Linked DNA regions of Homo sapiens: all the other regions are linked to region 3. Evidence: fine-mapped expression QTL. A gene starts in region 3. Each other region holds a variant in brackets. All regions are shown on one strand. Distances are from middle to middle.

Region 1 (10,074 bases), 26 kb after region 3:
TAAAATTCATCTTGAATGTACCTCGATGAGTGCTAGACAACCATGTACGCGCATGTAACCACCCTCCCCATCAAGATTCAGATCACCAACACCCCGGAAAGTGGCCCACTGTGTGAACCTTCTTTGTCACCCTAAGGCAAAATGTGGTCCTCACCCCCCAATACCCCCTTGGAAGGTCTTCTGCAGTGACATTTGTCCCAATTGCTGCCACCTGTGTGTTCTCTTTTTATTTTTATTTATTTAGAGATGGAGTCTCTCTCTGTCGCCCAGGCTGGAGTACAGTGGCGCAATCCCGGCTCACTACAACCCCTCCCTCCTGGGTTCAAGCGATTCTCTTGCCTCAGCCTCCCCAGTAGCTGGGACTACAGGACCATACTCGGCTAATTTTTGTATTTGTAGTAGCGACAGGGTTTCACCATGTTGGCCATGCCAGTCTTGAACTCCTGATCTCTGGTGATCCACTCGCCTCAGCCTCCCAAAGTGCTGGGATTACAGGTGTGAGCCACCGTGTCTAGCCCCACTTGTGTGTTCTCTGTCTTCTTTCCCCATCAGGTTGGATCTCCTCAGTGGTCGGCCTGGGTCCTATTTGTCTCTGTATCTCCAGGACATAGCAACGACGGCCCTCTGTAAATAATACTCGTTGAGTGGTGAGAACCATATGGGGCAGCAGGATTTGACGCCTGAATCATGAAAACTGGGGAGATTGTTATTAATCTGGAGAGCTCCTCTTTTTTTTTTTTTTTTTTTTTTTAAGACGGGGTCTTGCTCTGTTGCTCAGGCTGGAGTGCAGTGGTGTGATCATAGCTCACTGTAGCCTCGACCTCCTAGGCTCAAGCAATCTTCCCACCTCAGCCTCCCGAGTAGCTGGGATCACAGGCACACACCACCATGCCTGTCTAATTTTTTAAATTTTTTCTAGAGACACGGTCTCACTATGTTGCCCAGGCTAGACTTGAACTCTTGGGCTCAAGCAATTCTCCCACTTTGGCCTCCCAAAATACTGGGATTACAGGCGTGAGCCACGGCTCTGGGCCAAGACAGCTCCTCTTCGAAAACAAGTGCTGATGTGGGCGTCAGCTTCCCCTCCCTCATGAACATGCTCAACTCAGGTTTCCGCTATTCTGTTAGAGACCCTGTTTATTACTAGCCCATATGAGAGGAAGAGCCTTTGAACCCTTCTGTCTAGGCTTCTAGGGTGGTCATAAGGCTTGACCCAACCTCGTGACTGTGGTGTCAGTGGATGGTACCTTCATTCTTCATTCGGAGAGAAAGAATACATAACAATGATAGTAATATGAGAATTACATGGATGTTTCTGATCTTAAATGTCATTCAAGAATCACTGTAGAAAATCTGGAGATTATGATAATATCTGACATTTATGGCCTGCTTTACTACATGCTGAAGGCTAGTCTAAGAATTTCTCATTTAAACTTCAGAACAAGGTAATGCAGTATGATTGAGGTTAAGTGCTAGAATGGTTCCCTCACATTATAGAAGAGAACCAGGTTACCTGACTTGCCCAAAGTCACATTGTTGGGAAGTGGGAGCTAGGATTTGAATCCAGGGTAGGGGCCAAGGGAAAACCTCCCCTTCGCCCTCTGAAGGTTTACTGAAAAATCAACTCAAAAAAGGCAGATTAATAGACTGGGCACACTGGGTATAATCTGAGCACTTTGGGAGGCTGAGGCTGAGGCTGGAGGATCGCTTGAGGCCAGAGGATCACATGGGTCCAGGAGTTTGAGACTAGCCTGGGCAACATAACGAGATCACCGTCTCTACGAAAACATTTTTTTAAATACTAGGTGTGGTGGCACACGCCTAATTTTTAGTTGTGGTGGTACATGCCTAAAACATTTTTTAAAAAATTCAGGAGTGGTGGTACGTGCCTGTCATCTCAGCTACTCAGGAGGCTGAAGTGGGAGGGTTGCTTGAGCCCAGGAGTTCAAGGTTACAGTGAGCTATGATTGTGCCACTGCACTCCAGCCTAAACAACAGAGTTAAGACCCTGTCTAAAAAAAAAAAAGCCTCGCCACTGAACTCCAGTCTAAGTGACAGAGTGAGACTCTGGCTCTAAAACAAAATGAGATGAAGAACCACATATGCAACAGCCCAGTAGTCATTTCTTCTTACATATCCCACAGACCCCCTATACTCAGTATGTCCAACACACCGATAACTAATCCTCTTGACTCTGCTGAGAGAGAGCATTAAAATATATATAATAGGCCGGGCATGGTGGCTCACGCCTGTAATCCCAGCACTTTGGGAGGCCAAGGCAGGCGGATCACAAGGTCAGGAGTTTGAGACCAGCCTGGCCAACATGGTGAAACCCTGTCTCTACTAAAAATACAAAAATTAGCCAGGCTTGGTGGCGTGCACCTGTAATCCCAGCTACTCGGGAGGCTGAGGCAGGAGAATTGCTTGAACCTGGGAGGCGGAGGTTGCAGTGAGCTGAGATCACACCACTGCACTCCAGCCTGGGCAACAGAGCAAGACTCCGTCTCAAAAAAAATTTATAATAATAATAAATTAAAAGGCAGATTAATTGGAGAAAAAGCATACAAATTTATTGTGCACATGGAGGAGAACCATAGAGTGATTACCAATCCCCGCAGTGGGGTACAGAAGCCTTGAGGTTACAGAAAGACTGGAGGCTTGGATCTTGGCAAAGAGATTATGGCATGGGGAGAAGAGGAGGCCTGGCTGGCAAAGGCGTTCTTGTTACATAGGAGAAATCTCAGAGGTAGCCGCTCTCAGACAGAATAGATAGTAAATGTTTCTTTCAGACCTTTAAAGGTATCAGACTCTCAGTTTTTCCTAGATATGGACAAGAGAGAGCCTCAGAGAAAGCCTGGCTGTATCAACGTAGTTTTTCTCTGCAGATGCAAATCTTCGCCACATGAGACAGTTTTGTAGGGCTGCTTCTGTTTGCGGGCCCTGTGAACAGCCATCTCAAAATATGTCAAAGAAATATATTTTGGGGTAAAATATGTTGATTCCTTCACTGGGCTTGAGGTGCCCCACTCCCAAGTTTGAGAGAAGAATCTGGGAGAGGTTTGGGAGATTTTTTTCTTTCTGGTTTTAATTGCACTCTGTTTCCTCCAGAGTTTACAGTTATTATTATTACTGTGTGATCTAATTATGTGCAAGCAACATAATCACAGAACTGATTATGCCTCTGAAAATTGGAAGGGAATATTTTGGGGGAAAAACCCAAATTGAGAAATGACTGAGTTTATAGCCAGTAACAGCTGTTGTTTTTAGGAAGTTAAATCGATTTCTTTTGCTCAAAGAGTTTCTACTTCCTGAAGAGATGTACCCTGTTTTCTATGGGTGCAAAGGCAGTCTGTGTACATCATGATACTCCATACGGGCCTGATGGCGCTCAAACAGAAGGCCAGGCCAGCAGGCATCAGAAGCTTTTCCTTTCCCCCAGTTTCCTGTTTCCAGATCGTATTCCAAAGCTATAATTTCTACTTACCTTGAAGACCTTCAGTTTTCCCTGTTTCCTTCCTCTACTCCCTGAGCCTCTCACTATGAGATCCCTAGAGTGTGGTTGTAACGGCCTCCTCTAGCGGGTGCCCAGGCCCCAGTCTGCTCTGCTCCACACTTCCCCCTAGGGGCAGTTCTCTGCCTGCGTCCATGCTACCCCCTGCTTCTAAACCTTCCAGCGATCCTCAACACCAGTCGCCTATAAAGTACAAGGGCCTTGCACTTTATAGTTGGCCTTCAGGGAGGGCACAGTTTGCAGCCAGTACTGCCTACCAGCACACTTCTGTTTCCTTCAGCTCACCAAAGCTTTAGCCATGAGAGTTTATCATTCCTTCCTCATCTTCCTGTCCACGCCTGTATTTCCAGATCATTCACACTGTGCCCTCTGCCAGGAATGCCTTAGTCTCATTTCCAACCTCACGGCCACCTTAGGAGACAGCTCTTGTGGCATAGATGTTAAGATGGAAGGTTCTGGAGTCAGGCTGCAGGATTTGTATACTAATTCTGCCCAGGGTGTGCAGCCTGTGCAGTCACATAAGAGCCACACTAAGGAGGGCTCCGGGCTTGGTTTTTTGCTCTGCTACCACCATCTTGAAATTCTTAATCATTTTTGAACCAGGGCACTGGACTTGCAAACTATGTAGCCAATTCTGCTTCTGACACTGACAAACTGTCTAACTATAAAATCAGGATGACAGTGAAGGCTTAGAACAGGGTCAGGCACTTTGGAAGCGGTCAGTGAATGGGAGCTATCATTATCCCCATCTTACACACCAGGAAAGAGGCTCAGTGAGTTGCTCCACACCCCACAGCTGTCACGTGACAGAAACGGTGACGTGGCTTACTTTCACTTCCCACGCCGATGT[G/C]AACTTTCCTACGTAGCCCTGACTCTTTGTAGCACGTGGTCATGTCTGCTCTCAGTGTATTATGTGGCAGTATTTAAAGGCTGCTCATACTGCCTTTGTTCCTTTAGAAGTAAGCAAAGCACAGAGTTAGTATTTCTCACACTTGAAAAATGAGAACAGTAAATCAGTGACTGCCTTAAACATCCAAATCCAATTATGACCTTTGCTGAGACAAAGATGCTGGCATCAGAGTCTGGAGTCTGGGGCTCTGTGAACCCACACACCATGCCTGTCCCTCTTCAGTCTGGAGCCAGAATCCTCCCTTTCCCACAAAAGACAAAAGATGCTAACAGATGCACGCTGGTTTCCGGAGGAAAAGGCCACTTCTGTGAGCCAGTGGGAAGACGGGAAGTCTTTCCTGCAGGAAGGGGGTAGGTAGCTCAGGATACTAGCAGGAGATGCTTTTAATTGTTCTGCAACAGTGACAGCTCAGCATCGTGATTCCTGGTGGTGCTGGGGTGCAGTACTATTGTTAATGTCAGCTCCCATTCATTCATTCCTCTATTTTCACACTCACACATTCTGAATGCAGTTATTATGCTGTGGTCTTGGGGAAGGAGCTGTGCTAGTGGAAAGTGATGCAAAGTGAAAAGAATATTCTTGCCACTTGGGGATTAGGGAGAAAACCAGCAAGTATGCAAAGATTCACAACCATCTGGTGAGTGCCTAAAGCCAGATATTATCAGAACTCGGGTAAAACCAGAGGCCTAGAAAAGGCAGGAAAAACATGGCTCCCTCAAGAGGTGAAATTTGAGCTGAGATTTGAGGGATAAGGAGATCTGATTGCCAGTCCCGTTGAATTCATTTCCTATCCCTGTAGTAGCAAAGGACCACAGATCCAGCAGCTTAAACAACACAAATTGATCATCTTAAAGTTCTGGAGGTCAGAAGTCTCACTGGGCCAAAATCAACGTACCTGGTAGGCTACATCTTTTCATGGAGGTTCTGGGGGAGAAGCTGCTTCCCTGCCTTTCCAGCTTCTAGAGGCCTTCTAGATTCCTTGCTTCCTCCATCTTCAAAGCTGGCAATGTCACATCTCTCTGACCAGTCCTGCATAGTCACATTTCCCCCTGACTCTCCTCTTGAGCTGCCCTCCTTCACTTTTAAGGGCCCTTGTCACTACACTAGGCCCACCCGGATAATCTAGGATGATCTCCCTACTTGGAGGTCACCTGACTAGCAATATTAAATCCGTCTGCAGTCAAAATTCCCTTTTGCCATGTAACCAAATATTCATAGGTTCCAGGGATTAGGATGCAGACATGTTTTGGGGCTGCTACTCTGCCTGCTATGCTCATTTTGTAGATTACTTGCTGTGTGCCCCTGAGCAATTTTGTCCAGTCTCTCTGAGCCTGAGGCTTCTTGTCTGTAAAAAGTAGAAATAAGACCCGCCCTGCCCATCTCACCTGAGAATGTAATGAGATAGTGTTTGTAAAAATGCTTTAATAATGGCAAAGGTCTCTGTCAGCATAGATGTTCCTATGAGGGGGAAGGGCAGGGGATAACATCCTGAGTGTCTGCTGCATTCTAGGTAGGTACTAGGAGATGGTTTATCCCAGATGGCGCATACCTCTTCCCAATTCCACATTCAGAGCTGTCACACTGGTGTCTTGAGATCTGCCATGGTGACAGTATTTACACCATGGAAATACTCCAAATCAGGGCTGCCCCCACCACCTTGAGAACCAGTTGTTAAACATTTACCAGCACATGACAGGTCTATTCCATTTATTTAAGAAAAACCACCTGAAGGGGCTTTTATTCCTTTATAGTATAGATAGGCAAGTCAAGCTCACAGCCAGTGATAAACCCACCTAAGATCTCACAGCTGGTAAGAGTGACTGAGTGTTGAGGCTGGCTTGTCATACTCCAAAGTTGATTTTTCCACTGTACCCTCAAAACCATTCTTCACTCCTCCAGTTCTGCCTACCCTTGACAGGTTTGATTACTCTAACTAACCAAGAGAATTGTGGGACTTAATAGCAGGTTCAAAACTGTAACTGTCATGCCTAAGTTGGTGGATGGCCACGTTTTGGCTGTGGAAGTGCAGTTTCCTGGGGGCTCACCTGGGTCACTGCCAACTTGACCTAAATCAAGTTTAAAGCCTTCCACCCTAGAGGTTAGGCAGCATATGAAAATACTGAATTCTCCACTGTCAACTGCAGAGGGTTAAAAGGGATTTGATGTAAACAAATTGCCAGGTCACACAAAAGTCAAAGTGCCACATGGCTTCCTCTTAGACAACCTGGAAGTGTTTGAAGGTCAGCAAACACAAGTGCTTCATTCAGAAGTGAACAAAGCAAATAGCAGGCTAGCATTATTGACCTTTGGGAGCAGAATTAATGGTGGCAATTGGAGATTTAAAACAAAACCAAACTGACTTGACTTCATGTTCTATTTTAATCAGGTTCCTATTTCTCTGTGTACTAACTTTGTTTTATTAAGTTTTGGGTTTTATTTTAAATGTGCTCAAAGCATAAGACATCTAAAGTAGTTAGTGGGCGTGAGGAATTAATTGACCCAGGAGCAAAGACTGCACATCTGACAATGGTTCTCAGTTTGGCTGTACATGGGAACCACCTGGGGACCTTTCAAAACGCCAGCTGCCCTGGTTGCATGCAGACCAGTTAATCCAAATCTCGGGGGCAGGGGGTAGGGGGGTCCCTGGCATTGGTCCTTGCGGATTGAAGCTCCCAGGTGATTCCCATGTGCAGCCAAGGTCGAGAACCACTACTCTTGTAGTTTATTTCCCTTATTCCCACTTAGCGTTTCTATTTTTTGAGTTTCTGTTGTGTATAGTCTGTTTGGGAAAAGCACTGTATCCAGTTACATGAGAGGTCCTGACACCACAGAAGGTGAAAAGGCCTCAGGGCGTTTCCTAGTGGGTGTTTCAGAGAATAAAGAATCCCCACACCTAGAAAACCAGTTCTCCCACACTCACCAGGAGTGACATCACCAGGAGCCAATAAAAAATTTCCACTTGAGTTTACCAGTTAAGCCCTCAATTGATTGAACCTAGAAATTGCTAGACAAACTGTGAAGGATTAGGTTCCTCCAAACTGCTCCTTTTATGAGGCCCATTCTCTGATTTACACTAGATCTAGCCTCTTACCAGTTCTCTCAGTTTCAATGCATTTGTTCTGTGGCTGTTGTAGTATTGGCAGGAGGAGGATTTGAGTCCGCAGGCAGATAAGAAGCCAAGTTTCAGAGGAAAAACAATGGAGATTCCACACCCTGAGCTCCTTGAGTCTAAAACCAAAGCCTAAAGGCTGTAGGCAAATTGTTGCTGCCCCCTATTGGCAGTGATTGGTGTTGACGCATGAGAAAGAGTCCAAGCCCCCTGGTGGTAAATTCCAGCTAGGCCCATCCCTTGCTGTCGCTCCACATTCCACTAACAATGCTGTAGGCACAAAAGAATTCCCCCTTAAATATATCAGATGGGAGTTGTGAAAGGAAAATAAATCTTGGGACCCCAAAATCACTAAGCTAAAGGGAAGTCAAGCTGGGAACTGCGTCAAGCAAACCTGCCTCCCATTTTATTCCTAAATAAGACAGCTACAAAGATAAAAAAAAAAAAAAGACATACCTCCCTCACAATTTGCCCACAAGGAAATTCCTCGTGGACAAAGGACAGACAGAGCTCAAAGTCATCCCTCTGAGGCTCATGTGAGACAAATGCATATCTGATTGCTTCCTCTGCCCTGTCGTTTCACCAAGGCAGACCAGGCATAAGTGACTATTCCTCCACCCTCCTCTCCCATGTGAATTGTATATTCAGTGAAAGGCTAATCAGAGACCCAATAGAATGCAACAAATGTCTCTTATCTACCTGTGATCTGGAAGCCCCCTCCCCTGATTCGAGTTGTCCTGCCTGTCTGGACGGAACCAATGTACATCTTACACATGTTGATTGATGTCTCACGTCTCCCTAAAATGTGTAGAACCAAGCTGTGCTCCGACCACCTTGGGCCCATGTAGCCAGGACCTCTTGAGGCTGTGTCATGGGTGCATCCTTAACCTTGGCAAAATAAACTTTCTAAATTGACTGAGGCCTGTCTCAGATATTTTGGATTCACAAATTGGTAACCATGAAGGGATTCTGAGTGGAGGTACCCCTGACCTTTGACAAATCTACTGTTGGTGCTTGGTACCAGCTTGAGCTATCTTTATGGCTCAAGCCAGTAGGACAATTGGCTGAGGCCTGGGAGACACCCCCACCCCCGACCAAGAGAATCCCTGATCTCTCCAAATTTGGTTGAGATCTAAAGTTTATTTTGCTGTATAACTCCTTTTCTGGAGTTTCACTTGCTCCCAAAAAGGAAGGCAAGTTTTCCTGCTTCCATGATGAAGAGTGCAGGTAACTCCTTTCTGGAATTTCAGCTCACTTCCAACAGGGAAGGCGAGTTTGAGTTTTTTCCTGCTTCAAAGATGGTAGAGAGCAGTGTTCAGCCTGAGCCCCATTCCTAGGTAAGTAGCTGAATTGGGCTTTTGTCTTGGCTAAAGTTAAAATTAACAATCAGCTGGTTTTAATTTATCCTTACCATTAGAGCGCTTGGTAATCATATATTAGGTTGGTGCAAAAGTAATTGCGGTTTTGCATTCTTTTTAATGGCAAAAAGCACAATTACTTTTGCACCAACCTATAAATTGTGGCATTGTTTGCTTTGCTTAGCTGTTTTTTGTTGTTCTTTGTTTCTGTTTTGGTTGTTGTTTTGGTCTTTTTTTCATTGGTTTCATGCACATCCGTGTGAAGAGACCACCAAACAGGCTTTGTGTTAGCAACAAGGCTGTTTATTTCACCTGGGTGCAGGCGGGCTGAGTCCGAAAAGAGAGTCAGCCAAGGGAGATAAAGGTGGGGCTGTTTTATAGGATTTGGGTAGATAAAGGAAAATTACAGTCAAAGGGGGCTGTTCTCTGGCGGGCAGGAGTGGGGGTCACAATGTACTCAGTGGGGGAGCTTTTGAGCCAGGATGAGCCAGGAGAAGGAATTTCACAAGACAATGTCATCAGTTAAGGCACGAACAGGTCATTTTCACTTCTTTCGTGGTGGAATGTCATCAGTTAAGGCAGGAACCGGCCATCTGGATGTGTACGTGCAGGTCACAGGGGATATGATGGCTTAGCTTGAGCTCAGAGGCCTGACATTCCTGTCTTCTTATATTAATAAGAAAAATAAAACGAAATAGTGGTAAAGTGTTGGGACGGTGAAAATTTTGGGGGGTGGTGTGGAGAGATAATGGACGATGTTTCTCAGGGCTGCTTCGAGCGGGATTAGGGGCGGCGTGGGAACCTAGAGTGGGAGAGATTAAGCTGAAGGAAGTTTTTGTGGTAAGGGGTGATATTGTGGGGTTGTTAGAAGAAACATTTGTCATTTAGAATTATTGGTGATGGCCTGGATACAGTTTTGTATGAATTGAAAAACTAAACGGAATAAGAGAAGGAGAAAACAGGTATTAAAGGACTAAGAATTGGGAGGACCTAGGACATCTAATTAGAGAGTGCCTAAGGAGGTTCAGCATAGCCTTGCCAGTAAAGATTATTTATTTACTTCAAGAGTTTAGAGTGGCAGTTTGGGGATAGCACCAGGAGATATCAGCTGTGATGTCTTGGAGAAACAGTGTAAACCGGCAGTGTAAACAAGAGCAGGGCATGTATGAGTAGTTGAGAACGGTGA
Region 2 (10,074 bases), 130 kb before region 3:
TAGTCCCAGCAGAGATGTAGATAGATAGATACATGTTTCAACATTGTCATGCTAAAAAGTTGAAAGAAACCTGAAGGTTTATAGTTACAAGACTAAGTAAATTATAATACAATCAAGCAATGGAATGCATTCAAAGATAATGGTAATTAAATTATGAAGAATCAGGCTCGCCAATCTTCTCTCCTCCCCATGGATTCTCTTCACCAGGTTCTAACATATTTGGAATTCCCTAGCATGGTGCTTCGCAGGGTGGTGGGGGGCGGGGGGGGCGGGGGGGGCGGCGTGTGTGTGTGTGTGCATGTGCACACATGTGTGTACCTGAATGTTCTACTAAAATTGTTAAGCGCCACTCTTCCTATATTTTGTTTCTTGTCTTGCTCATGTCACTGCCAGGAGTGAAGGGAAATTTTTTCCAGAAGTTTCACAAGCCTCACGCTGTTGAAGAACTTGGAAAGGGTTCACAAAAACCTGGGCATCTGGCCAGGCGTGGTGGCTCACGCCTGTAATCCCAGCATTTTGGGAGGCTGAGGAGGGTAGATCACTTTAGGTCAGGAGTTCAAGACCAGACTGGCCAACATGGTGAAACCCCGTCTCTACTAAAAATACAAGAATTAGCTGGGCGTGGTGGCATGTGCCGGTAGTCTCAGCTACTCGGGAGACTGAGGCACGAGAATCTCTTGAGCCCAGAAGGCGGAGGTTGCAATGAGCCGAGATTGTACCACTACACTCCAGCCTAGGTAACGGAGTGAGACCTGGGCATTTTTGGGACCCCTGGCAGGTGCCACACTGGAGCTTGTTCACTCCCCACTGCTGGGCTCTGAGTTGCTGTCCCAGGCTGAGCACACTGCCTTCAGCTGCCTTCCAGCACAGTTCTGCTCCTTGTTTTCCTGAGCTGTTTACTTGCCCTCCCTGAGGTTGGCAAAGCCCATCTCTTTTCATCTGGGAGTATTAGTCTCCAGATCTGTACAATTCAATCATTAGTCCCAATAACATCTTCACATTTTCAACCAAGAAGCCAGAAGAATTCCCGGTCCCCTGTGCCCTGTGGGGATAGACCAATGATCCCACATTTGACATACAGGAATGCCTTGGCTCACTCCACCATGACCTTTGCTAAACATCTTCTACTCCCTCCTTCTCTTAAATGCAATTAAACCTGAACCTATGTGTAATATAAATGTGATACTGAGCATGAATAAATGGTTTAATTCTCAACTTGTGTCCTATAGAAGCAACAGAATATGCTTAGGTTTAAAAAATGAAAAACTTACATTATTTACTATAATAAGGCTCTTCTTTTGTGCTATTAAGAAAGAAGTATTTTGATATCCTCATTTTCCTAGTATGTGTCCTAAATCAAAAGAAAATAGCCCCTTGCTAATTTTAACTCCAAATTTTTAAGTTAATGATCTCTATCTGGTTTTAGGAGCTATAATAGCAATCTAGTTCTGCCCTAACAATTCAGGAACAAAGAGCTATTAAAGATAAAAGTTGGGTCACATAACTGCTGGGTGTTAGAGGCTTCTAGGACTTTCCACTGCCCATTGAACATAATCCCAAACTGCCTATAATTACTGACTTCATGTGCCTAAACACGAGATCCGCTGTCCCCTCCGAGCCCTCTAGAGCATTCGATCACACGGGCCTCCTCTTTCATTCCTGGAGCACACAAGGCCCTTTCGTGTCTCAGGGCTTCTTTCTGTTTCCTCAACACACTTCATCACCTTTTGTTTTTTACAGCTTTGTTAAGGAATAACTCACGAGTCGTACAATTGATCCTGTTAAAGTGTACAATTCAGTGGCTGTTAGTACATTCACAAAGATGTGTAGCTGTTACCACGATCAACTTTAGAACATTTTTATCACCTCCAAAGAAAACCCCATATCCATTAGCAGTCTCGCCCCATTCCCCCATACCCTCAGTCCCTGGCAACCATTAACCTACTTTCTGTCTCTATGGATTTGCCTATTTTGGACATCTCTTATAAATGGGATTATACAATTTCTGGCATTTTGTGACTGACTTCTTTCACTTAGCATGATGCTTTCAAGGTTGATCCATGTTGTAGCATGTATCAATAATTCAATCCTTTTTATGGTTGAATAATATTCCACCATATGTATATTTTATTTATTCATGTTTTGTTGATCCATTCATCTGTTGCTGGGCATTTGGGTTGTTTCTACTTCTTGTCTTTTATCAATAATGCTGCTATGAACATTTGTGTACAAGTTTTTGTGTGGATGTATGTTTTTATTTTCTTTAGGACAGAACTTGCAGGGTCATATTGTCAGAGACGTTCAAACCGGAGTGACTCCATCTTGAATAGGGGCTGAGTAAAATAAGGCTGAGACCTGCTGGGCTGCATTCCCAGTAGGTTAGGCATTTTCAGTCACAGGGTGAGATAGGAGGTCAGCAGAAGATACAGGTCAATAAGACCTTGCTGATAAAACAGGTTGCAGTAAAGAAGCTGGTCAAAACCCACCAAAACCAAGGTGGCAACGTAAGTGAACTCTGGTTGTCCTCACTGCTCATTATACACTAGTTATAACGCGTTGGCATGCTAAGAGGCACTTCCACCAGCACCATGACAGTTTACAAATGCCATGGCAATGTCCAGAAGTTACCCTAAATGATCTACAAATGGGAGGAGCCTTTACTTCCAGGAATTGCCCACCTCTTTCCCAGAAACCTCAAGAATAATCCACCCCTTGTTTAGCATATGATCAAGAAATAACCATAAGTATACTCAGTCGGGCAGCTCATGCCACTACTATGGAGTGATCCTACTCCTATAGAGTAGCCATTCTTTTATTCCTTTACTTTCTTTCACTTTACCCTATGGGCTCGACCCAAATTCTTTATTGCATAAGGTAACAATATGGTAACTCTGTGTTTAAACTTTTGAGGAACTGTCAAACTGCTTTCCAAAGTGGCTCTACCATTTTACAATCCCATCAGCAGTGTAAAAGAGTTCTAATTTCTCCACATCCTCACCAACATTTGTTGTTGTTTGTCTTTTTTTATAATAGCCCTTCTTGTGTGTTTGATGAAATATCTCATTGTGGTTTTGATTTGTATTTCCCTTATGACTAATTGAGGATCTTTCCACGTGGGTATTAGCCATTTGAATAGCCTATTTGGAAAAATGTCTATTTAGAATCTTGTCCCTCTTTAGAATGATTTGTCTACCTGTTCACTTGTTTACCACCCCCCACTCCCCACCCTGCTGCTAATTTATAAGTTCTGTGAGGGTAGGCACCATGATGCTTTTGTTCGGTATTACATACCCACGACCCAAAAAACCATCTGACACATAGTAGAAACTCAATAAATAATTGTGGCTGATTGCATTAATGTCTTCTGTACTATGCTAATTAGAGCTCATGGAAATAAGATAATCAAGGGTCCAGGCACTCTAACTATAGCTCTCCACTCTTCTAAGCTCATTGGGTTGTTTTATGACCTGCTTAGACTTTCATAAGATCTGACTTGTGTTTAATACTTGGACATGTGCTGCCCTAGAAAACCTCTTTCTAATCTCAATATCAAAAGTTTGGCTTTCCAAGGAATGCTCTGTGTTTTTAGTCCACAAACAGGACATGCTTGCCATTCCTGTTACTGTTTTGCCTGTAGCTTTGTAGCCTTATTCTTCTGGATTCCTTACTATGTGAGAGTTAAAGAAAAAGTGAGAAGATGAGGAAGGTATTCTACATTTTTGTTCTTTCAGGTTAATGTGGCTGTAAAGAGAGGAATAAGATTAATGATAATCGCTCTCCTCTTTTTCTGACCTCCTCGGGGCCATCCAAAGTAGTTTGGAAAAGATATTGTAATAAAGCATTTTGTTTTGTTTTTGTTTTTGTTTTTTTTCACTCCTGAAGTTCATACCCCATCCCCACTCTTACTTAACTGCAGTGGCACTTAAAAGTCAATGAGATCACCCCAATATAAGATTAACTTTGTAGAATTCATGAATTCCATGAACCAAAGGAAAAATGGTTACTGGCTAGTTAAGACCATGTACGCACAATGCCCATTACTATTTGGTCAAATAACATATTTTTATCATTTCTAATGGCTACATAGCATCCCATTATATGAAAAATGATGCAATTATATGTTTATTGTTGAGTGGTGAAAATCCCATCTTTATTTTAAAAGTATATAGGAAAATAATGTGAAAATATATGCCAACTCTTAATATGGGTATCTAAGAATGTCTAAGGTAATGGATGGATTTCACTTTACTTTCTTCTTATTCATCTCACTTTAAAACTATTCTACAGTGGGAATATGCCAGTTGTGTAATTTGTAAAATGAAATAATAATGATGTGCAGCTATCAGTAAAGATATTCTGTGTCCAGAGTGAGCCAGTGACGCCTTGTGAGTCTGAACAGAGAAGCGCCTGCCTAGCTTCGTTCAGGTCTCCTCGCTCCTCCCAGGCCTAGCCTCGCCTTGTCCGCTGATCTGTCTGTGAGTCATCATTTGCTTTATTTCCCA[C/G]CACACCCAGTCTCAAATGAATGTTCACTTCCTTCACAGCAAGTTCCTACTCTAATTGCCAAGGACTTCTATTTCTGTCTTCACAATGGGTCAAAGTTCAGACTACAGAAAATTAACTCTGTATTTTCATTAGCAGGGCTACTCTTTTCTACTACGCAGTTGCTATTAACATTTTCTTCCATGTAGATCTATGTAATTGGTGAAATCTGTCTGTCTCACAGTCCTGCAAATACGCCTTCTGCACATGCCTGAAAATTCCCCCTCCCCTAAGTAACTACAGTGATTTTATGAGCTCTCACTTTTACCATGAGAATGAACACCTTCTAATCTGATTTTATCCAAAAGAATGTCTCTCTGTTACTCTCTTATTAAAAAGTCATCTCTTATCAATGCTTCCCCTTCTACCTCCACCCTCCACCACCACTCTTTTGAGGACGTAGAGGTTTAAATTAACCTGCACTGTTTAAAATAATGAACTATTAGACATAACATAAAGATCCAACCAAAAGGAAGAGGCAAGGAGCAGCATGGCCAGGTGTTCAGAGCTTGGACTCTGATCCTGGACCATTTGGGGTTGAACCCCAAATGGCAAGTTAATTACCTTCTCCTTAACTCAGTTTCTCTGTAAAACAGGAGTAATCATACTACCTACCTCACAGGCATGCTGTTACAGTGCTTAGAAAAGTGCTGGGCACAGAGGAAGCACTAGGTTTGTTAGTTGTTAATATTTTCAAGCCTACAATGGAATATAATGTAGTCATTACAATGGGTGATGAAGATGCATATTTATTAGCACGCAAGCTGCTTCACAATACGGCATTAGCTCAAAGAAGCAGATTTCAGGATTTCAGGACAGTGGCTACAACATGATCCCATTTGAAATATACATGCATCATGTATGTATATGGATCTATGGACGAATATAGCACTGATATGCTAGCAGTGGTTTTTACTGGGTGGTAGAGTTTTAATTGATTTTATTCATTGATTAGTTTCTTTTTCCTTATTTTCTAATTTTTCAGCATTAATTATGCATGACTTTAGTATTGTTTTAAAATAAAGAAAATAATTCTCTACTTGCCTGGTTGAATCCTGTGGCTTCAGGGTTTCAGATCCTTTTTATATGGGAGGTACATAAACACCTACATTGTTAGGATTGTTTTGTTGTTTGTTTGCTTGCCTGTTTTGGGAATGAATTATATTTAGACAGTAGTTAATCACTTTGGTTTTAGTCTTTTTACAAATGTATGTTTCCTTAAGTATCTAGTCTCTCTCTCTCTCTCTTATTTTTTTTTTTGCTAGAAGGTATCTACTCTCATGGAAGCTTAAGGAAGCACAGTTCAGCTCAAGCAAGCAGTAGAACCTAGGTCTCTTGCCTCCTACTCCAGGCTTCTTCCAACTACACCACCTTTGATTAATAACCATTGATCCCTTATGTTTACCAGAGCCTGAGGTGCTCTAGTTGCCCATGAAGATTGTTAATTAGCTATAAGTTTTAAAAAACATTCCACAACAGGATTAAAGTAACAGGACTTTTAAATTCTTTTAGCTGAGAGGTACCAAAATGTTTGAACAACAATATTTGATTAATTAACATAGAAAATCAGGTCAGTCCCAATTGGTTTCTGTCTGCAAATAAAACTTAAATCATGCTGGTTGTACTTATGCAATGTCAGAATAGTTTGTCCAATTCAGGAAAAACAGATCAACTGGTTTGTTTGGTATTACATAGTCCAAATATCTGGATGCCTGGATTTTATAGAGGTTGGGGCTCAGAGAATGATACCCCAAAGTATCAGCTGTGGCATGCTGAGCACTTTTGAAGTGAAGGAAATTGGAAGTCCTTAAAAGCTGCCTTTAGAACCAAGGACTTTGTAACCTTCCCTTGTTTCTACCCCTAAAGTGCATGAAGGGGCTCTCTCTGGGAGTTCCTTTATCTGTGGGAAGAAAACTTCTTGGAAAAGAGATTCAATTTTCTTAAAACCCCTTATCTATGAATCTCATCAAATAACCAGGAAAGATTGGCCACCAAAGAGGAGAAAAGACTAAAAGTCACCTCCATGCCCAGGCAGACTTCTATTCTTCTGAGGCAAGGTCCAAGAGATTACCTGGAAGATTTTACTTACATAATAAGACAACCTTTGTTCATAGTGAAGTTCTACCCCTCACTTTCTTGAAATTTGTCAGCCACCTCTCCAGAGCTCAGAGAAATTTTGTCCCAGGCTATTGTCTCTTCTATGGGCTTATTCATTTCCCCTGAAAATCATTCATTACACCTCAAAATTGCCTACATTCCTCTATTTCTCTCCCTTCTGTGAAGAATGTGCTATTTAAGCTTCACCCATCTGGCCCTTCTTTTAGTATCATATTTTGTATGGCTCCCATACACACTTACACATTAATAAACTTGTATGCCCTTTCTCCTCTTTATCAGTTTATTTCAGCAGACTCAAACCTTCAGAGGGGAAGGGAAAAATTCCCTTTGCCCTTACATAGAAGTTGGGTGTTTTGTTGCTACTGTCTGTGTTTCCTTTTCTCTAAAACACAATAATGATTCATACTCCAATATCCTTCATGAATTTTTTTGAAAATAAGCAGGACAAGTTCTACTTTTGTCTAGAAAAGTATTACTGTAAGACCAAAGAGCTTCCACACATCCCTGTTGAAAAAGGTCATGATGACTTCCTGTAAGAACAGTGGACCTAAAAATATGAACCAGAATCCATCACAGCACCATAGCTGGCAGCCCAGTAATGTATGACATAAGGAGACAATATTCTTATTCAGGATCAAGGTTAAGAATTGATTTTTTTTTTTTTTAAATAGAGATGAGGTCTTGCTATGTTACCCAGGCTGGTCTTGAACTTTTGGCCTCAAGTGATCCTCCCACCTTGGCCTCCCAAAGTTCTGGGATTATAGGCATGAACCTCCACAGCAGCCTGATTGATATTTTTTAGTGTGCCAAAATTTATTTATTTGTCAACAACCTTTCCCCTCCAGTTTATATTCAAATAAAATATCACACATGAAAGCCACTTTTATTACGACATGCCTATGATAGCAGAGTGATGGATGAGGGAACAGGCTGAATGTTCAGTATAAATGCCCTAAAATCCCTGCATTCTTGGTGATTCTTCTCTTTTTGTCTAATTGTGTGGCAACATCCCCTGCTCTGACTTACACCTCACCATCTTGTTTAGGCCTGGACATAGACTTCGCATCTTTACCACACCAGACATGAAGCATCATGAGTGGCTTTAGATATTCAGGATTTCTCAAAGTCTCATCCCAGAGCCACCTATATCAGGATAATCTGGCTGCTTATTAAATATCGCAACAATCTAGGTCTCACTTCACAGGTACTGAATAAACATTTCTGGAAGTGGAGCTTGGAAATCTGCATACTAATCAAACTTTCCCAATTATTCTATGTACTCTGCAGTTAGAGAAGTGAAGAATCCAATGTTTAGGTCAATATTCTTCTCTCTGGAGACTGACCTTGTCTTAGTCAGCATGAGCTGCTATAACAAAGTACCAGAGACTGGGTGGCTTGAACAGTAAACATTTATTTCTCATGGTTCTGGAGGCTGGGAAGTCCAAGATCAAGGTGCTGGCAAATCCAGTGTCTGGTGGGGGCCCACCTCTTGGTTTGCAGATGTCTATCTTCTCATTGTATCCTCACATAATGGAGAGCAGAGAGCAAGAACAAGCTCTCATGACCTAATTATGTCCTAAAGGCCCCATCTCTTAATACCATCTCATTGGGGGGTTAGGATTTCATCATGTAAATTAGGGGTAAACACAAAACATTCAACCCATAATAGACCTTAAGCCAGAGTGTTATGCATTGGACCAGAAGCCAATGGCACCACCTATCTCCTTACCCTGCTGTCCAAGATGACAGGGGTGAAGGCAAGAAACAACCCCAATTCACTGCAAATGAGAGTGTATAATAGGACACTGGTAAGAGAATAAAAAAGCTAGTCAAGAGTTTGGATAAAATATTTGCAAATCATGTATCTGATTTTAAAAACTCATATCGAGAAATATCTAAAGAACTGTCACATTCCAATAATCAAACAAAACAAACAACTCAATTAAAAAATGATCAAAAGATTTGATTACACACGAGAAACAGATGGCAAATACACTCATGAAGCTCATGAATGTTCAATATCATTAGTCATTAGGGCAATGTTCAATATAATTAGTCATTAGGGCAATGCAAACTAAAAGCACAATGCAATGCCACTGAAAACCCAAGAGAATGTCTACAGTTTTTACTTAACTATTTTTAAATATTTTCTAGATATGGGGTTTCACTCTGTTGCCCATGCTGGAGTACAGTGGAGTGATCCTAGCTCACTGCAACCTCAAACTCCTGGGTTCAAGCGAGCCTCCTGCCTCAGCCTCCCAAGTAACTGGGGCTATGCCTGGCTTATAATAAAAAAAAAAACAAAAAACAAAAAAACAAAAAAAAAAACTGACAATACTGCCAAGGATGCAAAGCAATTGGAAATCTTATCAAATACTAGTGGAAATGCAAAATGATACTGCCACTTTGGAAAACTGTATGGGAGTTTCTTTTAACACAGCATACAACTCAGCATTTCTACTCCTAGGTAATTTACTAATAGAATGGAAATGCTTGTCTACGCAAGTACTTCTAAGAGAAAGTTCATAGCAGCACTGTTCATAATTGCCCCAAACTAGAAACAATCCAAATGCTCTATTAATAGGTAAATGTATAAACAAACTTTGGTATATCCATGTAATGGAATACTGCTCAGATATAAAAAGAAACAAGTACTGATATGCACAACATAAATGAATCTCAGAAGCGTCATGCTGAGTGAAAACAGTGAGAGACAAAAGGCCACATTTTATATGGTTCCATTAATACAACATTCTGGAAAAAACAAAGCTATAGGTACACAAAACAGATCAGTAGTTTCCAGGAACTGGGGATTGGTGGGAGGAGACTGACTTCAAAGAAGCAAAGTGGAACTTTGTGGGGTGATATACTCAATATCTTAGTTGTGGTGGTAGTTACATCTCTACATTTGTTTTACAAAACTCATAGAATTGTATTCATAAAAGGGTTAAATTATACTGTAGGTAAATTTTATATCATTAAATCGGACATTAACAACAACAACAACAACAAAAAGTCTATGATAGAGTCTGTGGGCCCACAAAACATGTGCAGTAATATGTTCACCATTTCCCAAATCAAAACTTACTTGTGCTAGTGGAACTAAAATAAGAAAGAAGTGATTCCATAAAAAATATACAGAGGAGGCCGGGCGTGGTGGCTCATGCCTGTAATCCCAGTACTTTGGGAGGCCAAGGCGGGTAGATCATGAGGTCAGGAGTTCAAGATCAGCCTGGCCAAGATGCTGAAACCCCATCTCTACTAAAAATACAAAAAAAAAAAATAGCCTGGTGTGGTGGTGGACGCCTGTAATCTCAGCTACTCGGGAGGCTGAGGCAGAGAATTGCTTAAACCCAGGAGGTGGAGGATACAGTGAGCCGAGATCACGCCACTGCACTCCAGCCTGGGTGACAGAGT
Region 3 (10,074 bases):
AAAAACAAAAACAAAAACAAAAAACTCAGCACAACCAAAGTCAGGCAAATTGCTGTTCAAAGCTCTTTAAATATATTTGTTAAAAACATATTTAAAATTGTGATGTCTAACATGACATTCACATGTTCAAAGGGACCCCCAAACCAGCATGTTAAATGAAGTCTCGACTGGGCGTGGTCGCTCACACCTGTAACCCCAGCTCTTTGGGAGGCTGAGGCAGTTGGATTGCTTGAGCTCGGGAGTTTGAGACGAGCCTGGGCAACATGGCGAAATAAAAAATAAAAAAAAAAAAATTAGCCAGGCATGGTGGCGCATGCCTGTGGTCCCAGCTACTCGGAAGGCTGAGGTGGGAGGATCCCTTGAGCCTGGGAGGCGGAGGTTGCAGTGAGCCGAGATTGCGCCACTGCCCTCCTGCCTGTGACAGAGAGAGACCCCATCTCAAAAAAAATAAAAATAAAAAAAAATGAAGTCTCCATCAAGTAAGGGGAGAAGTGTGCTTTGAGGCACAGAAGGAAGAGTGCGTGGTGTATGCACACAGTGAATGTGGCATGCACCAGCCCTGCCTACAAAAGTCTCAGAAGCCAGGGGCAAAGATGGTATTAGCACGACAATGTGATTACAGAAATAAAATGCTATGCAAGTGTCCAAGGAAAATATAAACTAGGTAAATACAGGTCTTAGAAACATATTTTCTTCCTAGCTTGCTTTGTTGTATATCTCTGCCTTACATTTGTAATTTCACCCCTTCTCATTACATGCAGAGAAAACCTAGTTGAGTCCCAAATTGGTGTGTTTGATTCTCTTAGATTGCAGTGTAAGCCACTCTTGAAAGTGTAATCGAAAAGAAAGGATTTGGGGAGTGTGGAGTGCGGAGGGTGGTTTTTTCTTATTTTCTTGCTAGGCTAGTGAAGGCTACTAGGGTAAATGAAGCATTGAGTGCTTTCAACGTTTTTAAACAACGTTTGAAGTTTCCATTCTTGAACAAAGAAAGACTCAAGATTTTTTATTTTTACTCTTTGTCTGTAATATTGTCTCCAAAACGCTCTGTTCTTTCTCGTTAGCACAAAATTGACCCCATATGTTTAGAAAAAAAAAATGCAAAAATATTTTCTTTTTGTCTCTTGAGGAATTAGATGCTTCTTTGGGGGAAAATAAACAGACCTTCCTTGTGCATTTAAAGGAGACAATACCTGATTCTGACTATAATGGGTCTCTTACACAGCCGAGAGACTCAAAGTTTGTGAAGATTTTGAACCCCACCTCCCCCCCATACACACTCAATCTTTGCATACACAGCCCAAAAGCTGTGTTGTTCTCCTGAAAGAATAAAATAGCTTTAAAATTCCAACCACTGGAAGGCTGCAAATGTGGCTGTGATGGTTGACAAATTTGCGAGATTTCAAAATGAAGCCAGCTCAATCTCAAAGGTCCTTTAGTGAGTCTCTTTTTATTTCCTTTATTTTTGCTTTATTTGTCTTGGTCAATTCAAAATTTGCAGAAATCCCAGACTAAACTGTGTGACCTTCGGGGCTTACTTAAGCTACCTTGGCCTGTTTTGTCCTGGGGGGAAGAGAAACAGTCATAGGGTCTCCTTCAATCCCAACGTTCTCTCATTCTAAGGGTAAACCTAATGTCCTCTTTGTATCTGTGAAAAATACTGTCGACTCCCAAGTCCTACATAGCAGGAACATATATCCCCACACTGACTCATAAATACCCCCAGCCCTTCTGGGAAGAATCTCTCTTGGGAAAAACAAAGAATCCCCCATCAAAATTAAAAAAATAAATTCTCTCCCATCCCCGTGTGCAGCAGTTAAGTGTACAGAGTGTGATATGGGCAGAAGCTTCTGAATTTCCCCATTCCACACGTCAAGCAGCCTGAATTCAATCATTACCATTTTACTTTTTTTTTTTTGTGCTATGTTTTAGCTTCGTCCCTCTAGGGGAGAAAGGTCTTTTAGTCCATGAATTATCCCTTTTCCTAAATGTTCCTTCTTCAACTGAGGAACACTGGAGCTGTGTTAATTTCTTAAAATCTTCTTTCGTCTTTGCATTGTTTGAAAAAGGCACACAGCAAAAGCCCACGTGGGAATGGTTTCTCTTTGTGCCTTGGGCATTTGCACTGTGCCCACACCCTTCCCTATAGGCAAGAAAACTACAGGGCTCCAGGCCCGTCTCCATCTTGAGATGGCTCCAGAACCTTTGTGCTTACTCCTCTCTTCACGGAGCTAAGCGGGCTGTGGCGCTTCAGGTTTTGTAGCAGCCTCTGCAGCAGCCTGTACACACCCCTTCCCTTGCAACGCAGAGCAAGGCTTCTAGCCTGATGGTCTACTTGATTGTCTAAACCACAGGTAAATGGTTTCCTGTGCATTTCTCAAAATAAGCGTTGAGCAAAGGAAATGAAAGCAACCAATTTAATAGTGATCAACAATTTTCCCTACCCCTCCGCTTCAAAAAGGGTATTTTCATAAATCGGTTTTGAGAGAAAAATGTTTAACTTCTTGGACATTTGCGTTGTAAAATTTAGCTTTGCAGAACATTCAGTGAACTAAGAGCCTTCTTAAATGCTGTTGTTTCGGCTTAATAAAACTGGTGCTTATTTAAAAAAAAAAGTCTCCACCCTTCCCTACAGAACCGAGGAATCCATTAAGGACCTTATAGAATGGCAAATCTTTTTTTAACTCTTAAAAAATTGACGTTGTTTCCGTCTTCCCGCACCAAGGACTTTGCTTTTACCCATCAGTGAAAATAACTACTTCCGATGATTGAGAAGTTATCAAGGACTCAAAGACCTAAATGTGAGTCAATTAATTCCCGCTGGATTTAAACTTAGTACAAATCTCACCTGTGTCCTGCTAGTGTCCTTTAAACCCAAAAGATCGAATAAGTATCTTTTAAATCCAAAGATTATTCAAATGAAGAGGACCCAATAAATTTAAAATCATGTTCACTAATCTTAACTGTATTCATTAAAGCAATTGTAAATATTGAACTCTGATTAGAAACCGGCCATTAGAAAATGAGTAAGCTCAAGTCCTAAATTCCTTCTTAACGCAGCTGCTAAAAATGTAATTTTTACTCATCTATGTTAATGCTAGCACTTGGTTAAATAACCAAGTTCAATTTGATACCCTGAAATAAGATACTGTGCTGTAAATTATCACCTTCATTTTCTTGAGCACGTGCAATGTCAGCTTATCAAAACCCGTAAGAACTGCAAAGATATTTTTATTAAAGCTCTCACACAATTCATACTAGGAATTCAATCAGCCTGAGAAAATGATCTCCTAGTATAGACAAGGTATTTTGCATACCTGGGTGAAACCCATTTCTATGCCATAAGGGAATTTATCCAGTCACCAGATGCTTGTCCCTCCCCAATGGACCAAGAGGTAGGCCTCTTTGCAAAGGTTTCATCCGCGATCCTTCCAGAAACCAAACAGACACACCAGCTAAGTTTTTAAACTTTTTATTTGCATATTAAAAAAATTGTGCATTCCAATAATTAAAATCATTTGAACAAAAAAAAAAATGGCACTCTGATTAAACTGCATTACAGCCTGCAGGACACCTTGGGCCAGCTTGGTTTTACTCTAGATTTCACTGTCGTCCCACCCCACTTCTTCCACCCCACTTCTTCCTTCACCAACATGCAAGTTCTTTCCTTCCCTGCCAGCCAGATAGATAGACAGATGGGAAAGGCAGGCGCGGCCTTCGTTGTCAGTAGTTCTTTGATGTGAAAGGGGCAGCACAGTCATTTAAACTTGATCCAACCTCTTTGCATCTTACAAAGTTAAACAGCTAAAAGAAGTAAAATAAGAAGGCAATGCTTGTGGAATGTACAGTGCATATTGGCGGCGCACGCCTCATTACGATTCGCCTGCTTGCTTCTCCTGTTCAATCGCTGTGACCAGAAAAAAAAAAAAAAAAAAGATGGAGGGAGATGATTAAAGGATTCAGTACAGACTAAAGGGCTTTCATTTAAAGCATCTTTTCAAATCATAAACATTCTACACGGTATTCCACAATGGAATAAAATATGTATATTGAATATACTAAATAGAAATACATTTTAATGGATAAATGTTTGTATATTAATATGGCATATTAAATATTCCATTACTAAATTACTAAAGCCCCGTGTTTGTTGGCTGCAAAACCATTTTTAATTAACCTTTGCAAGCCACATTCATCAACTGTCGGCTCTTCCCCCGCACTCCCCCCTCCCGAATTCTTCCCGCGGCCGCTCCCAGCCTCCCGCCCTCCCACCGGCCGCTCCCACCCAGCCTTTCTAAAGATGGGGGTGGGTCGGAGCTCACTTTCTTTGGAAGGCAGTGGATTTTTCTCTTGCGTCTCTGTCTTCTTCAGTTTCGACTTATCGAATTTCTCGATCTCAGCCATATCGGGTTTGTCAGACATGGTTGCGGAGGAAAAGCTGCAGGGAGCAAGCCAAGAGCGAGCGTGAGGAAGAGCCACCCGCCCCGCTGTCTCTGGGCTGGGAACTGCACTTCTGCCCTCCGACCCGCAGCCTGAAAAAAACCCTTCTCGCTCTCCTACTGCTGCCGTTCCGCGCTCACGAGCTTCCTCTTTCTACAGAAAAAGAGGCGACACCCCCCGCGCCCCTCCTCCCCATATTTCAAAACGCTGTGGACCAAAGAGGGCGGATGCCTCTCAAAGCCGAATCTTGCAGAATAAAGGAAATTGACCACTGCGAATTGTTAATTACAGCGTTTAAAATTAAAGGCTGGCTAGGACAAGGAAAGAAGAGGAAAGCCACTTCCAAATTCAAGTGGGAAAAATCGGCAAGAATTCCTAAAATGGAGCCCAGGTAGGAAAAGCGTTTCCATTTCCTAGCCGCGGCCTCTCCGCAAGGATGCGGGCCGGATCCGGCTTTCTAGTCCTCTCACAAAGGCGGCGGCCGCGGCTGGAGCTTCCGACCACCGCCCTACCGGCTTCATCGCCCGCGTCACAATGCAGCCCCGCACACAAAGCGGCCGCCGCGCGCCCCGAAGCCGGTCTTGCCTGCTCTCCCGGCAATTCGGCATCCCTGGCACACATGTCTCTGCAAGAAGGACTGTAAAGATGTCATAGCACAGCCCCGCCGCCGCCAGGCTGCACAGATGCAGCCCGCGCAGCCGTCCGAGGCTGGGAGGAGGCTCGGGGCTCGGAAGATGAACCTCAGAACAAAGGACTTGTCTATTCCCCCATATCTCAGCCTCCAAGGCAACGCACAATACCTTTGCGGGCAAACACTAAGAAATTTTTTAATGTCCCCTCCGAGCGGCACGGCAAAACGCCAGTTTTTCGGTTTTGTTCTTAAATCATCGATTTCCCCACCCCATTATCCAGTATCTAGGGTGTTTCGCATCCCCCCAGCTCCCCAAAGTAGCCTTCCCGGGGAGAACCACTCGGGCTCGGATTTAGGGAATGCCTTCACAGGGACGCGGATGATGAAAGGGCGGGGACGGAGGCAGGACGGCAGGAGGAAGGAGGCAGGGGCCCTGGGGCTCACCGAAGCGAGGCGCACGAGTACGAGCGAAGTCTGGTCTGCGCAGTGGCCACCACCGAGTTGTCGGGCGGGGTGCGGCGGGCGCAGCTTTATGGGCGCTCCTATGTAAATGAGGTGATGTCACCCGCCGGCCCGCTTAACTCCTTCGCGCCGCGTCTCGGAACGGCATCCGGAGGCCTGCCGGGCTTTTGGGGAGGGGAGCCCCACCCCCACCCGGGGTCCACTAGTGCATGCACCCTAACCACAACGATGGCGAAAAAAATGAGCAAAGCACCCTCCAACACTTCATAACACATTTTCCCCTTTTACGTTTATTTCATTACGATGAATTTTTGCAACAGCAGCGCAGAAATTGCTCTTGGGGACCAGTGCATAATAACTAAGGGTCGGGGTGGCACCTGGGGTGACAGGCATTCTTTTATTTCGAAACTGCCTTTGTCTACTGTGGACATCTCCACACAAGGGCGCGGTGTCCCTCCCTGGAGGGCCTGGCCCGCTGCAGGGGTACGATTCCTGTGACTCAGCTTTCAGTCCAGTGGCGGGCATGCGCCCCACCCCGGGCCTCTTTGTCTTCCTCGCTGGCGTTCCTCTTGCCTTGGGTGGGACGTAAAGCACCCTTAAGTGATTTTAAAAGAGAAAGTTTCATCACTGAAACATCCATATTGTTTCATCAGCATAATTTTTGTGAGCACTCAACAGTAGTATTTGCTGGGTGTAAGGTAATTTGGAGTTTATAGGGTAAAACACCTCCCTCTTAGCAAAATAAGTCAAGCTCAAGCTCTGCCATTGACTTTACTGCCGGACAATGAGGAAGTTCTTTACCTTCCTCTTCCTTATTTTCATAAATTTTAAAAGTGATGGCTAAGGAGGCCAGCGTTGAATTCCAAAGACTACAGTTACATTATCTCTAATGTCTTAAGATGAAATTCAAAAATCAAATTATATTTTCAAGGGAGCGTTTCCAGCACTAGGACATCGCTGAAGTGCATCTGCATCTGGAAATATAAGAGATTCGGGTAGAGGGAAGCAGTTTTCAAAATGGCACCTGACTCTGTGAATACCAGTGACCCACTTGCTACTGAAAATTAGTTACAAATACCATGCCACGCGCCTGCAAATGGCGTGTGAAAGGAAAAAGACTCGCCGGTTATAAAGAGGCCTAGCTGTGATTATTTCTAAGAGACAAGGCAGTGTGCAAAATATTCCTTCTCCTTTTCCGTGGCCTGGGGAAATGTTTTTAGAAACCCCTTGCTAATCATTTTTATGGCACAGGCTTTTGTCTCGCTGGGGATTAGAGTCAACCTTATATATAGACCCTTGAATGCCACTGCCAGCAGCTTGGACTTCCCCGTTTCTCCATCTACTTGACTTCCTTTTTCCTGGGGAGGAAGGAGGTGGGGGTGAGCAGGGGCAGGTGACCGTCTGGTCCCCTAGTTAATGCTCTGCTGGGTGGCTGCCTTCCTGGCCTCCGAATGGGGCACTGGACCTGTTCGTGCATGCACCAAATGTCACCTGTCTGGTAACAGCCCCCCCGCCCCTGTTCCATGTTGGGAGTCTACTTCATCGTTGAAACACAGAAAAGATCTTGCAGGGTGCCTTTTCGCCCGTTTAGCTGGCAGCTGCCGTTGTACCGACACCGTTTCCGCAGGTTCTGTGATTCTGTTTCCCCTCACCCAGCTGCTGTCGAAAATCATTTCTTTCCTCCCAATGTCTCCTGATGACAAAGGAGTGCCACTACCTTCTCCTGGCTTCTTCTCCCAAGGGCCTTTCCTCAGAAAGGGTTAGGCCTCACTGAAGCAATTCTCCAAAGGAGATGGACGAATGCAAACTTGGAAATGTCTGGAGAAGTTTTCCAGTGCGGTAGCAAGCAGCCTTCCACTGTGCTGAGACACTGATGGAGGGCAGGTGGAAACAGAGAGGAAGAGAAAGAGAGACGACTGCTTAAAGGAAAAGAGTTCCCATGATTGGGACTGACCTGCCAACCGGTCAGGAGACCTAGAGAGACAGGAAAGGGAAGGGTGGTGCAGATACAAGGAAATGCAAACCAAAGGAATATTCTTAAAAGTTGCATGACTCTGGCCATGTGAATGAATCTTTCTGTGCTGGAGTTTTCTCATCTGTAAAATGGGTTCATTGCAACACCGACCTCACAGGGTTGTTGGGAGGAGTAAATGCTTCGGACAGTGCATGACAATTAGTAAGCTCTTTCTATTGTTATTATTCGTATGATTTAGGATGGAAGGTTGAGGAAAAATAATAAAATAATTGTCTTAGTGTTTAGAATTAATTAAAAATTTTAGGTGTCTTGATATTATTTCTCCTATAGAGACATTTATATATTATTATATATTATTTCTATATAATTAATACATATGAATATATATTATTATTTTCACTTACAAAATGTTGATAGAAGATCTTTTGGTAGTTTTACAGCAAATAAAACATGACAACTCCTGTCGGTTGATATTTTCTAAGAGTCAGGCATTGTAACGTAAGTTTTACATTTGTTTTTTCCTTTCTTTCCCACCGCCTTTCCATAAGAAATTTCCAGATGGGGAAACTGAGGCTTAGAGAGCCATCATTGGGTTACCTCAGCTGGTAGCCACTCTGTTATATATGCCAAGAGCATGTAAAAGTCCTCCCCACATCCTCTTAGTCTGTACCCGAGAATCACCAGGAAGAGTGTGAGGAGCTAGGCAGTTGTGCTTTCCACAGCGTCTGGTGGATAGTAATTGCTCAATAACAGTTCTCCCACTGCATTGAATTGATTTTCTTTTCTTTTCTTTTTTTGAGACAGTCTCGCTCTGTCACCCAGGCTGGAGTGCAGTGATGTGATCTCGGCTCACTGCAACCTCCACCTCCCGGATTCAAGCCATTCTCTGCCTCAGCCTTCCATGAATTGATTTTCTTAAATGAGGGAGGTACTTGAACTCAGGTGTTGAACCTGTGACTCTAATTGTCTTGCTTTCTTCTCCCCAGATAATTAAATCCATTTAGTCTTAATGTTCTAGATGTCAGAATGTTCCAGGATCATCCCTGCCCCAGGCAGCTACATTTATAAGTCTGTTAGTATGTGCCGGGCACAACTACCATTGAGGTAGCAGTTTTCGATCCCAATTAAAAAGACAGAGGCACACAGGGGCAAAGGAACTGCTTACAATGGGTGCAGACATTGTTCCCAGTGAGACCCCCCCCCAAAAAAAAAGGCCTTGGGTGACTCCGGGTTGTATGGTGCACTCTGGCCTTGGGGCTCTCTGGTGAAAGATAAGTAGAGTCCACTTTGCGCCTGTCCTGCCTTCCTCATCTCACGGGCCACAGCGCCCAATGAAAAATGTGCCAACATTGCCTGCGTTGAAGGGCGGTTCCCCTCCAACCCTGTGTCTGGTGGAACCCGGAAAAGGTGGCAGGGGACGCAGTTTTATTTTGCTTTCCAGGGCGGGCCTGGGATAGAGTCGTGGCTATTTCTAACCATGGAGAAGTTGGCTAGAAGTCTGAATTCATGAAAATGAGTTCTATTAGTTTGAACCTATTTAATTTTGTGCCAAAAACTTACCAGAAGAAGAGAAGAAGGAAGAGGAGGGAGGAACGGAAGAACAGGAACAAAGCTGAGCTCCCAGCTCTTGCTTTCTCAAGCCCAGATCCCTTTGTCTGAGTTTCAGGGCCTCCTACCATCTGCCCCACCTGCCTGCACCCCACGTTCCCCTGTGGCCCCTGCAGTCTCCATCTGGTCTCCCTCACAGCAGAGCCCTCCTTCCACTGATTGGAATCTAAAACCCCTTAAAGACACAGCCTAAGTCCCCCCTGTGAATAACAGGAAAATGAAAAGAGAAAGGATATTTAGTAGACTAGCTATATCTTGTAACCTCAGCTATAAGCCCTTTTAAACAATATCTGATTCCATTCTTACCCTATGGAGTGAGTACTAATATCCCCATTTTACTACTAAAGAAATTGAGGCTCCGAGAATTTAAGCAATTTGCTCTTAATCAAATGCCCAGGTCTGTCTACCAAGTCTTTCCACCGAGGCCTATCTCTGCCTTATCTTTAGTTGAAGTATCTTTCTCCAGGACTCCCACCCAGAGCGGACCCACATGGTGCAAAGAGGAAGGCGAGCAGGGGGTGGCAGGAAAGCAAAGAGGAGTGAAAGAACACCCTCGCCTGTGCTCAGTGCTGAGTGCCGTGCTGCTAATTGTCCTGTTTGCTTTATTGATCCGATGGAAACTTTAGAGCCAAAAGAAATGTAAAAGGGGATCTCATTCAACCCAGTTTCCCTTCTGTGGCTTGAATTTTCCTCTACAACATCCCCTCCAAGTGGTTACTCAGCCTCCACACAGCCAGGGAACAATACGGAAGCAGAGAATCTTCGAGTTAACGCAGGGGGCAATGAGTAGCTTAGCTTGGCAGGCACTTGCGTAAAATGAGAGAAAGTGACAGGAAATAACGCTGGGAACCAGGCAGGGGCCAGGTTGTAGAATAATGATAGTAACAATCATGGCTGTACCCATAGCAGTAATAACAGCAAGTGCTTTCTGAGTGCTTTCCATATACTGGGAAGCTTTCCA

Direction of the effects. Alleles are on the strand shown, and positions count from the first base shown. SD is a standard deviation of normalised expression in the study named. Not every link is listed here.
For the expression in adrenal gland of the gene that starts at base 5,571 in region 3, C is the low allele of the variant in region 2 and G is the other (moderate effect, 0.46 SD a copy in GTEx).

What was found.
Region 1: its variant is fine-mapped to the expression of TMSB4X in whole blood (TOPMed, PIP above 0.99).
Region 2: its variant is fine-mapped to the expression of TMSB4X in adrenal gland (GTEx, PIP above 0.99).

The regions. Positions count from the first base shown.
Region 1 is chrX:12,944,597-12,954,670 of GRCh38, reverse strand. No RefSeq gene overlaps it. Among named protein-coding and RNA genes, the nearest start is that of TLR8-AS1, 6.3 kb to the right of the region's middle. RefSeq lists enhancers at 3,307-3,536, 3,467-3,761, 4,167-4,461, 7,459-7,588 and cis regulatory regions at 3,390-3,819, 4,089-4,501, 7,463-7,906. The variant G/C (reference allele first, on the strand shown) is at 4,362.
Region 2 is chrX:13,096,317-13,106,390 of GRCh38, reverse strand. No RefSeq gene overlaps it. Among named protein-coding and RNA genes, the nearest start is that of FAM9C, 57 kb to the right of the region's middle. RefSeq lists a silencer at 3,247-3,541. The variant C/G (reference allele first, on the strand shown) is at 4,503.
Region 3 is chrX:12,970,607-12,980,680 of GRCh38, reverse strand. TMSB4X (thymosin beta 4 X-linked) reads right to left here and starts at 5,571. Exons shown (of 3, transcript NM_021109.4): 1 at 5,513-5,571; 2 at 4,320-4,435; 3 at 3,458-3,904. The coding sequence starts at 4,419. The coding sequence ends at 3,870. RefSeq lists enhancers at 1,099-1,158, 2,759-2,878, 4,014-4,852, 5,692-6,531, 6,655-6,774 and 2 more and a cis regulatory region at 2,113-2,405.